Homo sapiens: one gene and its partners. The protein of the gene in region 3 interacts with the protein of the main gene of each other region in a biochemical or structural test. Each region holds a gene or a part of one and is shown on either strand. Other genes may lie near its edges.

Region 1 (3,688 bases), on a different chromosome or scaffold from region 3:
ATTATCCCCATTTTACAAATCAGGGGAAAAAGAGACACAGAGACATGACAAGTAAGTCGTAGATTTGGGTTTAGAAACCAGGAACTGTGTCTTTAGATGTTTGCTCTCAGCCATTAACTGCATAGCCTAGTACTATGTATGTTGTTATGAATTGGAATTTATCCATATTGTTTGTTTTTTAATGCTTGATTTAAAAAGACATTTCCATCTACTAACTGCTATATCACATCAACCTAAAAATAGCAATTTTGCTTCTGGAATAGTGATGGGATATCCACAAGTTTCTCTTAATTATATATTTTATGAGGTCTACATGTAGAAAATCTAGTTTCTGAGGCAAATATTGTAGGATTTGCAAATCAACTATGAAAAATATTCCTCAGTCTAACTACAAATGGGAAAATGGGCAAGATCTTAGACATCCAGGTGGCGAGTGCTATAAAGAACCAAATTTGGTGGGAACATGAATGTAAAGTAAGTCCATTATTTTCTGAGGCACTGAGTAATGTAGATGGGAGAAAGACAGGTTTCAAGATTGAGGATGAAGTTGAGGTTTCTAAAGTTTGGAAAGTAAGTGAAGTCCAAGAATGCCATTCTATATTTCGTGGACAGCGTCTGAGAAGTAACCACTACCTGTTGAGAACAAAGAAAACCTATTTGTGGAATGTTGGGAACCCCCTGAATCAACATCAGATAAGGCCAGAGGTTGATGCGATCCTGAAGATACAGGGGGAGCTTTTGGGAAGGCTTTAATTATGCTCTGAAGTCTGGGCCTTTGAGGTTCCTGCCACCATTTGATGAACTCCATTGGAAACGTGGTGGACTGAGAGGTGAGAACTGTGGGATTGCTTATCTCCGAATCCTGACACTTTATCAGTGTCCCAGCCTCCAAATCCAATTTAGTGAAGTTGTTAGTGGAGAAGTGATTGTCTTCTTATGTGCTTATGGTGGGGATCGTTGAGTAATTAGTTAAATTTATCATCAAAATTATGTGTCACAGGTGAATGGGTAATTGAGCTGTATCCTGCAGGGACTCTCAACCCTGGCTGAACTTCAGTAACCTCTAATTTTCACATTAAACATTTTAAACATTACAAATACCTGTGTCCCTTCCCCCAAGATTCTCATTCATTGGGTTAGGAGTGGGTCCTGGGCATAGGTATTTTAAAAAGCACTCCAGGTGATTCTAATGCCCAGCCAAGGTTGAGAATCACTAATCTACTCTAATCTTTTCGTATGGCTGAACTCATTGGATTTTAAACTCTTTTGATGGCAGATACTGTGTCTTAGATATCTACACACCAATCTGTTATTAAGCAACAGAATAAGCACAATACATGTTATTTGTTAATGGGATTATTATTATGAAGTGCAGGGCTTAAAACCTTGCTGTCTAGGGATTCAAACCTTTTAAGTGTCTTTCACTGATTTACAGAAAGTGAATTTATTACACATTGTTTTTCAAAATGAATTTTGACATTTCTGGCCTTTTCTCATTAAAAAAAAACAAACAAATAAAAGCATGGAATTTGTTAGAGTATTTATTGACCTTTTAGTGCCATTAGGAATACTCCTACTCCTACCCTTAAAGAATTCTTCCTATAGAAGGTGCTCAAATAATTGCTTAAAGTGAACATTCATTTTATATAGACAGTTGTCCCTTAGTATCCATAGGGGATTGATTCCAGGACTTCCCTCGGATACCAAAATCTGCAGATGCTCAAGTTCCTGATATAAAATGCTGCAGTGTTTGCATGTAATCTACACACATCCTCCTGTATACTTTAAGTCATCTCTAGATTATTTATAATACCTAATACAATGTAAAAGCTATTTAAACAGTTGTTATACTATACTGTTTAGGGAATAGTGACAAGAAAATTGTGTGTGTGTGTTCAGTACACGTAGTTTTTTTTCTAAATATTTTTGATCTGGGGTTTGGTTGAATCCGCAGATGCGGAATGCATGGATGCGGAGGGCTGACTGTGTGTGTGTGTGTGTGTGTGTGTGTGTGTGTGTGTATTCACTGAGGATGAAGTGAATAAGGGAAAGGCTTGTCTAGTAATGAGGATGTATAGTGTGTTCTGGGGTTGGAATGAATGAGAAATAAGAGCATTGAATTCGTGGAATAGCAGGCATGCTGGAATTTACAAAGGCCAATTTGTGGCTCTGACTGCGTATGTGAGTACACCCTTTTTTGGAAAGGAAAAATTATATTTGATAGGGTTTTCAAGATGAATCTTTTCTGTATTCAGATATTTTGAATAATATGTTTGTTTTACAAGTTGAGGCAGCTTCCCAGAACTGGGAGTAGTCTGATTAGACTAACAATTCCATTCCCTGATTAACTGTGGGATCGGAATCTAAGAGAATTTGTGTAGTTAGAAGAATCTGGTATGATAATGTGTGGGAGTAGCCTGGAGGAATAGGCTAGAACTCTTGAATTTCTAAACTTTTCAGGCTTTGATGCCTTGTTACCTAAATAGATTTTAAGGTTCTTGTATACATAAGCTAGGCCCAGACTGGATTCCTCAAATGCTTTTCAATTGATTGGGCACTGACTTACTTGAGTGCTTTATTTCCTATTCAGACCTCACTTCTTTACAGCATGTGGACAGAACTGACTCGCCATCAGCATTACACATGCTTCCAACTTGGTTTTGGTTCTGCTACTCAGCTTGCATTGAGCAGCTTCTAAGTTTGCAAACAGAGGGCTCGTGGGGCCTGCTGTGACCCACAGACATATTTTTGTAGGTCTGCTCAGTGTTATATTTTGACTTAGTTGTCAGCATTTAAATATTTTGAGATTTCATGCAAAACTCCAGATTCCTATCTTCTTTGGGGGAAAAGCAAATTGGAAGCTCTGACAATGCTGGGCTTTACTTTCCCACATAGCAACCATCAGTTGGAGCTGAGACACCTCTGCTCTCTTTAGAAAGAATTATTAATGCTTCAGTCTCCATTATTGCTTCCCTAACAGTGAGGATAAGTTATTGTCATCATGCTTGACTGTTTTTACTCTGTGCTTATTTTCTCACTTATGGCCTTAATTCATGGTTGCTATTTGGCCTGCTGGTGGGCATTTGAGTTTGTGCTCCTGGATCTTCTCTCCCCTCCCTCCTCTTTCTCTTTCTCTCCCTCTCACACACACATCCCCACACACCCTCTGTGTATAATCCATGCACATAGGGTTTGCTGAACCGGGTTTGGCTGGTTATCTGAGCTGAGTTAATTGCCCTGTGCGCGATTGGGAGCCACAGCCCTGATTTGTAGCTTGAGGCCCTGTGCTTAATCAAGTGGCTTAGTTAACCAGGAATTCATTCCCAGGGTATTCTGTGCTACAGATTCCCTTTGAAGAAGTTGGGCAAATGGTAATGTTGTCAGATTTTTGTGAGACTATTTTATGAGTGGACTGTTAAAGACATCTGAGGAGTGTGTTAAACATTCAGAGCTTTGGGCCTCTCTTGGAAAATCTAAAGCAGTGTAGTGCAGTAGAACTTTCTGGGATGAAGAGATGTTCTAGATCTGCATCTTTCAAGAGGGCAGCCACTAGACATATGTGGTTGTTAAGTAGTTGAAATGTGCCTAGTGCAACTGAGGAACTGAATTTTAAATTTTAATTTAAATGTAAATCGCCACAAATGGCTTGCCTTAGTGGACAGTTCAGATCCAATGCTCTTCTGATGGG
Region 2 (3,151 bases), on a different chromosome or scaffold from region 3:
TCCTTTATTTCTAAAATTGTGATGGACCCTAAATTAGAGCAACTGTCTAGGAGATGCAACTTTGCCAGGAAACATTGGTTTTCAAACAAGATTTTTAATAACAAATGTCTTCCAAAATCATTAATTTTCTTTGTTCTTTCAACATCATTTTCTTAGCCAAAAAAGCAAGAAGAAGAAGAAGGCACAACAGACACTGCAACATCCTCATCCAACAACCATGAGAAGGACAGTGGAGTAGGACGTACAGATGAAAGCTTGCGAAATGATGAGAGCTCAGAGCAGGAGAATGCAGCCGAGGACCCCAATAGCACATCTTTGAAGAGCAAGAGAGACCTGGGGCAGAGCCAAGACACTCTGGGAAGTGTTGAACTTCAGTACAATGAGAGCCTCGTATCTGGTGAATACATTGACTCAGACTGCATTGGCAACCCAGATGAGGACTGTGAAAGATTCAGGCAGCTCTTGGAGCTCAAATGCAAGATTCGAAATCATGGAGAGTATGACCTGTATTACTCAAGCAGCACAATTGAATGCAATCAAGGGGAGCAAGAGGGAGTGGAGCATGAGCTACAGTTGCTTAATGAAGAACTGAGAAACATTGAGCTTGAGTGTCAGAATATCATGCAGGCTCACAGGCTCCAGAAAGTGACAGACCAGTATGGAGACATCTGGACATTGCATGATGGAGGATTCCGGAATTATAACACCAGCATAGATATGCAAAGGGGAAAGCTAGATGACATCATGGAGCATCCAGAAAAGTCTGACAAGGACAGTTCTAGTGCTTACAACACAGCTGAGAGCTGCAGAAGTACTCCGCTCACTGTAGACCGTTCCCCTGACAGTTCCCTTCCAAGGGTGATCAACCTCACCAATAAGAAAAACCTGAGAAGCACAATGGCAGCCACCCAGTCCTCTTCCGGACAGAGCAGTAAAGAGTCGACCTCCACCAAAGCCAAAACCACTGAGCAAGGTTGTAGCGCTGAAAGCAAGGAGAAGGTTTTAGAAGGCAGCAAGCTTCCTGATCAAGAGAAGGCAGTCAGCGAACACATCCCTTACCTCTCTCCTTACCACAGCTCCTCATATAGATATGCAAACATCCCAGCACACGCCCGGCATTATCAAAGCTACATGCAGTTAATTCAACAGAAATCTGCAGTCGAGTATGCTCAGAGTCAGCTCAGCTTGGTGAGCATGTGCAAGGAGTCTCAGAAGTGTTCAGAGCCCAAGATGGAATGGAAGGTGAAAATTAGGAGCGACGGGACACGGTACATCACAAAGAGACCCGTGCGAGACCGAATCCTGAAGGAACGTGCCTTAAAGATCAAGGAAGAGCGGAGTGGCATGACCACAGACGATGACACCATGAGCGAGATGAAAATGGGGCGCTACTGGAGCAAAGAGGAGAGAAAGCAGCACCTGGTTAGGGCCAAAGAGCAGCGCCGTCGCCGTGAGTTCATGATGCGAAGCAGGTTAGAGTGTCTCAAGGAGAGCCCTCAGAGCGGCAGTGAGGGCAAGAAGGAGATCAATATCATTGAACTGAGTCACAAAAAGATGATGAAAAAGAGAAACAAGAAAATTTTGGACAACTGGATGACAATCCAAGAACTGATGACCCATGGGGCCAAGTCTCCAGATGGCACGAGAGTCCATAATGCCTTCTTGTCGGTGACCACTGTATGACCGAATGAATGGAATGCATGCGACTGATTTTAGGAGGATGCTACCAGTTTCGGTAGAGTATGATTGCCTCGTTCAATGTGGCGTTTTTATATATATTTTGTGACTCTTTATAGTTTAAATTTTTTGTAAGCAAAAAATACCTGGTAATTTTTCATTTGTTTTTCATATACTGGTACCTTCTTTTTGGCTGAGATCTTTCTTTTACTTGTGATATATTCATATTACTCGTTTATAAAAAATCAAAAACAAAAGGAAAGAAAACAAAAAAAACTTGCACAAAAATACTGAGGAGCCAATTAATTTCCTACTTCAATGTATCTAATGTAAGTGAAAATCTGGATTTATTTCTCTAGTTTACTTATTTTCTACTTTAATAATAACTCAATGCCAAAATATTTCTATGCTTGTTTCTTGGCATAATACATTTTAAATCAAACCTGTTCGTAATAAATCATGTGCCACATCTTGTCTTACACATAAAAGCCACTGCTTTTAACATCCCATTGTACATTTAACACATAAATGGTGTTAACATCCCATTGTACATTTAACACATAAATGGCCATTGTCTTTGTCTCAGTAAAGTGTAGGTGGACAATCTTCCTGTGATATGTAGTGACATTGGTCATGTAGCTAGATAATTATGGTAATTGTGACAATTAAAGAGAAATAAATTATTGATTATCCTTCAGAAAAATTATCAAGGAGTGTTTTATTTTCCTTGTCCACAGTGGTTGACAGTTATAAAGTAGTTATATGTGTATACTATTTAGAAGACGCCTAATTGTGGATTATAAAATGTGCACATTTTCTATCACTTGTTTCCAATAAAGTTGTATTGAAACATTCCCTATAGATCACTGTGTCACATATGCCTACCAGGATTAAATTCGATAATATATGTATAGCATCTAACAGATGCTAACTCAACATTCAATAGCCATTAGTTCATGTTCCCGTTGCCTGCCACCCACTTTTAAGGTAAAACCAAGAAAAATTTAAAGAATGCCATGGAGAGAGAATATCAGTGAAGTGTCTGAGATTGTTTATAATGCTGCAATGTATGTTAGTCTGCTCTGGCTATCATAACATAATGCCATACTTAAACAACAGGAATTTATTTCTCATAGTTTTTTTTTTTTTAAATGGTGGTCTCACTTTGTTGCCAGGCTAGTCTTGAACTCCTGGATTCAAGCAATCCTCCTACTGAGGCCTTCCAAAGTGCTGAGATTACAGGTGTGAACCACTGTGCTGGGCATCAATTTCTCATAGTTCTGAAGACTGAAAGAGTCAAGGTCAAACACACTAGGGGTTAGGGTTTCAACATATGAATTTTGGAGGAACACAATTCAGTCCGTAGTGCTATGTGTATTTAGTTGATAAATAAATTTTAATAATTTATAAATAATTTTAGGGAACCATATTTGCAAAATCCTCAGCATAGTCAAGTATAAATGCTTCATATGTC
Region 3 (3,688 bases):
GCTCGTGGCGCTGCCAACTGCAGGGGCTGAGATGTCGGGTTGAGCCCGAGTCCTGAAGGCTGAGTGGCTCCAGGGTGGGTGGCCTTCCAGGTGGCATTGGAAGGGACAGGTGGGCCTGGGCAGCCTAGAGAATGGGAGAGGAGACAGCAGGAGTGGTAGACAGCCCAGGAGCTCAGGTGCAGGGAACCAAGGGCTTGAGAGCCAGCCCCTCCCTGCACACCTGTAGGCCGGGCTGGGGGGCCCCAGGCCAGACTGTGGGCACGGTGGTGGGTGATGAGTGGCATCTTGAAGGCGCATGCAGGGCGGGCATGGCCAAAGGGACCCAGTCAGGAGGGACTGATGGAGGAGGTACTGGAGCCAGCTGGGCTCAGTGATGCCCCCTGAGCTGTGCTCCTGCTGGGTGGGGGCAGAGACCAGCTCCGCCACTTTGGCCTGGGACTGGGACTGTCCTGCTCCTCTCAGGCCCCTGGGGCCTTGGTTTGCAGCCCGGCTTCCCCAGGGTGAGAGCAGGGCCGCAGGAGTGGGCTCCCTGCTGCTGCACCGCCCCCAGAGCAAGCTTGTTCTGAGGGCTCCTGCCTTGGGAGCTGAGCCCATGGTGTGTCCTCATGGGGTGCTGCGCATGGGCCTCGAGGTGGACAGTGCAGGTGGGCCCGGGGCAGGAGTCCTGGGCACGTGGCCTTCCTCCCCACAGGGAGCTCAGCTTCAAGCCGGGGCTCGGCTGCGCTATCCGCTGCCAGCAGGAGACAGGGCTGTCCCAGCTGCATTCTGCCAGGCTCCTGGCTTCCAGGCTGCCCAAGTCCTGAAAGTGGGACCTGCTCGGGAGGAGGGGCGCCTGCTGACAGAGCCTGGTGCCTCACGGGGGGAGAGTGGGCGTCATCCAGCATGGACAGCCCCTTCCCCGGGCTCTGTCCTGGGTGTGACCTGTTGGCTGGGTCTCTTTTTCTCTCTAATGTTTACCTTCCCCTACTGGTGTCCCTGGGCCTGGCCAGCACTCCCAGCACCCACGGAGGGGCCACGTCTCCCCCAGGCCCACCAGCCCCTCTCTTCTGGGGAGGGTGATTCCCGCATGCCTTCTCCCTGCCCCCCCACCCACCAGCCCCTGAGCCCCTGTGGCGTGGCTGGGAGTGTGGGTGACCTGCACGGGTTCCAGGGGCGGGCTCATCTCTCTCCTGTGCTTTTTTCCGTGCAGTGCGGTTTGTGTGGAGTTGGGCTCCGGTGACTCACCCTGCAGGTTCTTTCTCTGGGGTGTGGCTGGTGTCTCCCCGCTGCAGCCTGGTGCTGGCTGGGTCCTGACCGCACCTGTCGTGGCAGGAAACACATTCGTCGTGCCTTGGCTGGTCCCTGTGTGACTGCGTCCCGCCACGTGGGCCACACCCTGGGCCTACCCACCAAGGCCCAGCCTTGGCCCCAGGGACATTCAGCCTGGAGGTGACTGGCTGTGACTCAGGACCCAGAGGAGTAGAGGGAGCCAGGCAGGGGTCCCTCCACCTCGGGGAAGAGCTGGATGGGCTCTTCGGGAGCTCAGAAAGGCTAAGCCTTGAGGGACGGTGACGCAGAGCCGCCTGCCTGCCCGGGCCTCTGCATACCTGGGATCGGGGTGAAGGACCTTTGCCTCCTAGAGGCCTGCCTGAGCCGGGGCTGGTGGTGGAAGGCTGCTGCGGCGGCCCCACGGTGCCCCACAGCAGGTCTGCACACTTGCAGCAGCCCGTCTGACTCACAGGGGCCTGGGCTCCATCTCTCAAGCCCCTCATTTGTGCTCCACCCACAGGAGGTGCTTCCCAAGGACCGTAGATGCCTCTCTAGAGCATGAGCTCAGGCAAGAGTGCCCGCTACAACCGCTTCTCCGGGGGGCCCAGCAATCTTCCCACCCCAGACGTCACCACAGGGGTAAGGGTGTGCCCCTCTGCAAGCCCAACATCCCCAGGACCCCCAGCATGCCCCAGGGATCTGGTGTTGCCTGCAGAGCTCCCAGCGCAGTCCCGTCCCGAGCTGGGGTCTCAGGGGAGCTCGGTGGGGGGGGGTGTGGTGTGTGTGTGTGTGTGTGTGCGCGCGCGCGCGCGCGCGCGCACGCGTGCGTGTGTGGTTGGGGCGTGTTAGTGCTGTGTGGCGCGGCCTGGTTGCATGGTTAAGCGTGTGAGTGCTGCGTGGCGCGGCCTGGTCGCATGGTTAAGCGTGTGAGTGCTGCGTGACCTGGCCTGGTCGCATGGTAAAGCGTGTTAGTGCTGCGTGGCGCGGCCTGGTTGCATGGTTAAGCGTGTTAGTGCTGCGTGGTGCGGCCTGGTCGCATGGTTAAGCGTGTGAGTGCTGCGTGGCCTGGCCTGGTCGCATGGTTAAGCGTGTTAGTGCTGCGTGGCCTGGCCTGGTCGCATGGTTAAGCGTGTGAGTGCTACGTGGCCTGGCCTGGTCGCATGGTTAAGCGTGTGAGTGCTGCGTGGCCTGGCCTGGTCGCATGGTTAAGCATGTTAGTGCTACGTGGCGCGGCCTGGTCGCATGGTTAAGCGTGTTAGTGCTGCGTGGCGCGGCCTGGTCGCATGGTTAAGCGTGTGAGTGCTGTGTGGCGCGGCCTGGTTGCATGGTTAAGCGTGTGAGTGCTGCGTGGCGCGGCCTGGTCGCATGGTTAAGCGTGTGAGTGCTGCGTGGCCTGGCCTGGTCGCATGGTTAAGCGTGTTAGTGCTGCGTGGCCTGGCCTGGTCGCATGGTTAAGCGTGTGAGTGCTGTGTGGCGCAGCCTGGTCGCATGGTTAAGCGTGTGAGTGCTGCGTGGCCTGGCCTGGTCGCATGGTTAAGCGTGTTAGTGCTGCGTGGCCTGGCCTGGTCGCATGGTTAAGCGTGTGAGTGCTGTGTGGCGCAGCCTGGTCGCATGGTTAAGCGTGTGAGTGCTGCGTGGCCTGGCCTGGTCGCATGGTTAAGCGTGTGAGTGCTGCATGGCCTGGCCTGGTCGCATGCTGAAGCGTGTGAGTGCTGCATGGCCTGGCCTGGTCGCATGGTTAAGCGTGTGAGTGCTGCGTGGCCTGGCCTGGTCGCATGCTGAAGCGTGTGAGTGCTGCGTGGCCTGGCCTGGTCGCATGGTTAAGCGTGTGAGTGCTGCATGGCCTGGCCTGGTCGCATGGTTAAGCGTGTTAGTGCTACGTGGCGCGGCCTGGTCGCATGGTTAAGCGTGTTAGTGCTGCGTGGCGCGGCCTGGTCGCATGGTTAAGTGTGTGAGTGCTGTGTGGCGCGGCCTGGTCGCATGGTTAAGCGTGTGAGTGCTGCGTGGCGCGGCCTGGTCGCATGGTTAAGCGTGTGAGTGCTGCGTGGCCTGGCCTGGTCGCATGGTTAAGCGTGTTAGTGCTGCGTGGCCTGGCCTGGTCGCATGGTTAAGCGTGTGAGTGCTGTGTGGCGCAGCCTGGTCGCATGGTTAAACGTGTGAGTGCTGCGTGGCCTGGCCTGGTCGCATGGTTTAGCGTGTTAGTGCTGCGTGGCCTGGCCTGGTCGCATGGTTAAGCGTGTGAGTGCTGTGTGGCGCAGCCTGGTCGCATGGTTAAGCGTGTGAGTGCTGCGTGGCCTGGCCTGGTCGCATGGTTAAGCGTGTTAGCGCTGCGTGGCGCGGCCTGGTCGCATGATTAAGCGTGTGAGTGCTGCGTGGCGTGGCCTGGTCGCATGGTTAAGTGTGTGAGTGCTGCGTGGCCTGGCCTGGTCGCGTGTTAGGC
Region 4 (3,688 bases), on a different chromosome or scaffold from region 3:
GCCTGCAGCCACCTGATACGCCTCATGCAGCGGTGCTGGCAGGGGGATCCGCGAGTTAGGCCCACCTTCCAAGGTGAGCACCCCGGGGTCTCCCCGCCACATTCTGTGGGTGTCACAGGAGACAGAGGTGACAGACAGGACAGGGTGAGGGACCAGGCCTGGGTGAGAAACAAGGCGTGTAACAGGTGGGCCGAAATGAGCCCTGCACAGATAGGTTGGACCCAGCACCTGCCTGCGGCCTCTGGTACTCACGGCTCGGCCACGGCAGCTGGAACTGAGTTGCCTCCAACCATCCGCCCCCTGCTCCCCACCAGGGTTGGGCTTGCCACCCAGAGGAGTCTGTATGGGAGCCTGAAGTTCAGGTGCAGCCATGCTCTTCCCGGGGACTTACCTGGCCGGTGGCCGGCGGCGTCGCCCTTCTCTTGAGGAGTTGACTTCCTGGGACAGATGTGTCTCTGGCATAGGAAAGTCACCCTGATGAGATGGAAACTGCTGCATTTAAAGCTTACGGCAGGAAACGGGCTGAATGGGGAGCTCATCCGCCAGGTGCTGGCAGCTCTGCTCCCTGTGACTGGCAGGTGGCGCTCCCCCGGGGAAGGCTTCCGCCTTGAGTCTGGTGAGGCCTTCAAATGATTACCGATGGGGGGGCCTGGGTTTGGCCAGCAAATTGTCCATGTAGGGCCCCTGGGCTTGCCTGGTGAGCTCAGGCTGGGCCGAGGCGTGTGAGAAATCCCCCAGCTCGTGGGGGCCCTGCGTTTATATGGAACGCGTGTGTACGCAGAAGTCATCATCCGAGTGACATGTCCCCTTTCTTCCCCACAAGAAATTACTTCTGAAACCGAGGACCTGTGTGAAAAGCCTGATGACGAAGTGAAAGAAACTGCTCATGATCTGGACGTGAAAAGCCCCCCGGAGCCCAGGAGCGAGGTAACGAGTCCTTCCCACAGGGGTCTTTTGTCTCCTCGGCTTCCAGGCAGGAGTTTCCAAACCACTCCTCTTTGCAGAGTCCCCCGCCGCCCGGACCACTCTCCCTCTCTTCTGAGCCCATCCCGCACCCAACTCCATTAGAAGTGTAGGTCCCATGGGGGCTCAGGTCCACCTGCCCGACTGCATCCCCGCCCCACCTCCTGTCTGATTCTGCGTGAGTGGCGGAAGGGCTTCCCTGACACTAAATAGCCACTCATTGGATGTGTGTGGACCACGGGGATCAGAAGGCCCAGCCCCGGCCGGGGAGGGAGAGCTGGTGTCTGAGTGTCTTTGCACCCCTGGCTCGGGGATCCAGTTCCTTTATAGCTGCCCATAAATGGTCTGCACTCTGATGAGTGCCACCCAGGTGATTTCAGATGTGATAAGAAGCTCCAAGTAGCAGGGCTGGCTAAATGCCTTTTCGGGTGATGAGGCTGGAGCAGACCTGTGAGGCCCAGCTGATAAGTGAGCTTTATAACGTGTTATCTGGTGTTGGGCGATTAATCCCAGGCTGTTGGTGTGAGCTCAGGAGATCAGGAAATATGTATATCAGGAATATGCGCCCACTGCCTCAACATAAAGTGCATGTGTGCCAGTGAGCCCGGGAGCAAAGGTGCCCGGGGGTTGCTAGTACAGAGGCAGACCTGGGCCCTGATAAGGGAAAGAAGGCAACCAACATGTAGGGGTGGCTCGGTACACCCAGCAACAGTGCGGGACCTCGAGCCGTCCCACAAAGGGTGGGGAGTTGGGGCAAACAGGTGTGCCTAAGGGAAGAAGCGTGAAATCCCGTCAGATTCCACTTACCCACCAGAAACCTGCTGCCCCTGCAGTCCATGAAGCGAGACTCTTTAAAAGGCCCCATCGGTGTATGTCGGATTGGATCACCCCTCGTCCCTGTAGCCGGGTCCTTCCCCTTTCCCTCGTCCCCACACAGCCCCCAGGCCAGCCCCACGTGGCTCCGCGGGGAGGTCGCAGTTGTGGCCACGTGTGGGGGTCCTGCCCAGTTCCTGTCTGTCCTCTCGTTTCCTGCCAACGCTGGCCTGTGCTGGGCAGCTGTGTCCCGCCATACATGCCTCACATTCTGCAGCTTGACACCGCCTGCCTTTTGTCTGGGTGACGCTCTGTGCAGTGTTACTGAGCAGATGGTATCCAGAGCTGCATGAGGCTGGATTTTGCACTTTTATGAAGGCTATCTTTCCTTAAGATGTCTCCGTGCTGGGTGGGGCCAGCGCAAGTCTTTGTAGCTCCAAGTCTTTGAGCTCCCTGGCGCTGTGCGGGTGCAGAGTCTGAGCATCCCAAGTGCTGTGCGGGTGCAGGGTCTGAGCTGCCCGGCACTGTGCGGGCGCGGGGTCTGAGCTCCGCGGCGCTGTGTGGACATGGCGTCTGAGCTCCCTAGTGCTGTGCCGATGCGGGGTCTGAGCTCGGTGACCAATAGGTTATCTGCATTGCTTCCAGGGTCCGTCCTTTCCTCCCCCATCTCCCTCCCGTGGCCCACCTTGCTCTTCTGTGTTTGTGTCATGGGCGGGCCATGCGGTCTATGGCAGGGTCTTCACCCACCCCCTCTTCTGCATCTTCGCAGGTGGTGCCTGCGAGGCTCAAGCGGGCCTCTGCCCCCACCTTCGATAACGACTACAGCCTCTCCGAGCTGCTCTCACAGCTGGACTCTGGAGTTTCCCAGGCTGTCGAGGGCCCCGAGGAGCTCAGCCGCAGCTCCTCTGAGTCCAAGCTGCCATCGTCCGGCAGTGGGAAGAGGCTCTCGGGGGTGTCCTCGGTGGACTCCGCCTTCTCTTCCAGAGGATCACTGTCGCTGTCCTTTGAGCGGGAACCTTCAACCAGCGGTGAGTGGGGACGCCTCTGTGTCCCGAGAGATGCTGGGCTTGGCGGGACAGTGGACTGGACTCAGTGAGAAGCTAAACGGAATCAAGGGGACAGTTTCTTGACCCAGCAAGAATTCTTCTTTGTGTTCTCTCTGTCTTAAGTAATTAATTTTGTGTGTTGGGCATTTGGCTCCGTCTTATGTCACTTAGCATGTGTGGGGAACAGGCCACATCACCAGTCTGTGCAGCAGTCTTGCCTGTGCCAGTGCCATGGGTGGAGGCTGACCTCAGGTCTACAGATTGGAAACCCCCTCCAGTGCAGTGAGCCTGGCGAGTAGCCGAGCCCCACTCCCTGGCGGGCCTCCTGTCTCGGGCGTGGCAGTCCCGCACCCTCTGCTCAGACGCTGCTGGGTACACACCCACGCCTTCGCATATGTGGGCTCCCCGTTCACGGTAGTCCAGGCCTAGTAATGTGTTGGTTATCCTTGGAGGTTTTACCACCAGGCCACCTTTGCAAACCACCTGATAGGGAGGAGCACTTCTCTTTTAGCTAATCTCATCTTTTTATGTTAATTTTGATGGCTTTTGTTTCTGGAAGGTGCTTTTTTTCCTATCCCTGCCCCAGGGTGCTGGACCTGGTGCTTGTTCTGGCCTCCTTTCTGCCGGCTGCAGGGGTAAGATGTGGTCCTGCCCTGTTCCTGAAGGGGCTGCAGCTCTGATGGAAAATACAGGGATTTACACTCAGGGCTACAGCCACGGGGGCTGAGGGCCAAGGCTGCAATCTCGGGGGAAGGGGAAGTTGGCTTTTCCTGGTGGATTGGAAACATCCTCTTGGAGGCAAAGACTTTTCCTGGATCTTACAGACTTCCCGGGATTTTTAGATTAGAATATTGGGGGCAAAGGAG

Evidence for each region.
Region 1: the proteins of TRAF7 (region 3) and PARD3B interact in a test that uses a peptide from one of them, tested with the Homo sapiens proteins (one large-scale study listed by IntAct).
Region 2: the proteins of TRAF7 (region 3) and PDZRN4 interact in a test that uses a peptide from one of them, tested with the Homo sapiens proteins (one large-scale study listed by IntAct).
Region 4: the proteins of TRAF7 (region 3) and RIPK4 form a complex in vitro, tested with the Homo sapiens proteins (one study listed by BioGRID).

Annotation. Positions count from the first base shown.
Region 1 is NC_000002.12:204,548,429-204,552,116, forward strand, and holds part of PARD3B (partitioning defective 3 homolog B), read left to right. Parts: intron 1-3,688. UniProt on the Homo sapiens protein: Putative adapter protein involved in asymmetrical cell division and cell polarization processes. May play a role in the formation of epithelial tight junctions.
Region 2 is NC_000012.12:41,572,208-41,575,358, forward strand, and holds the end of PDZRN4 (PDZ domain-containing RING finger protein 4), read left to right. Parts: intron 1-156; coding exon 157-1,683; 3' UTR 1,684-2,538; downstream 2,539-3,151.
Region 3 is NC_000016.10:2,162,115-2,165,802, forward strand, and holds part of TRAF7 (E3 ubiquitin-protein ligase TRAF7), read left to right. Parts: intron 1-1,768; 5' UTR 1,769-1,806; coding exon 1,807-1,887; intron 1,888-3,688. UniProt on the Homo sapiens protein: E3 ubiquitin and SUMO-protein ligase that plays a role in different biological processes such as innate immunity, inflammation or apoptosis. Potentiates MAP3K3-mediated activation of JUN/AP1 and DDIT3 transcriptional regulators.
Region 4 is NC_000021.9:41,742,998-41,746,685, reverse strand, and holds part of RIPK4 (receptor-interacting serine/threonine-protein kinase 4), read left to right. Parts: coding exon 1-73; intron 74-823; coding exon 824-927; intron 928-2,545; coding exon 2,546-2,804; intron 2,805-3,688.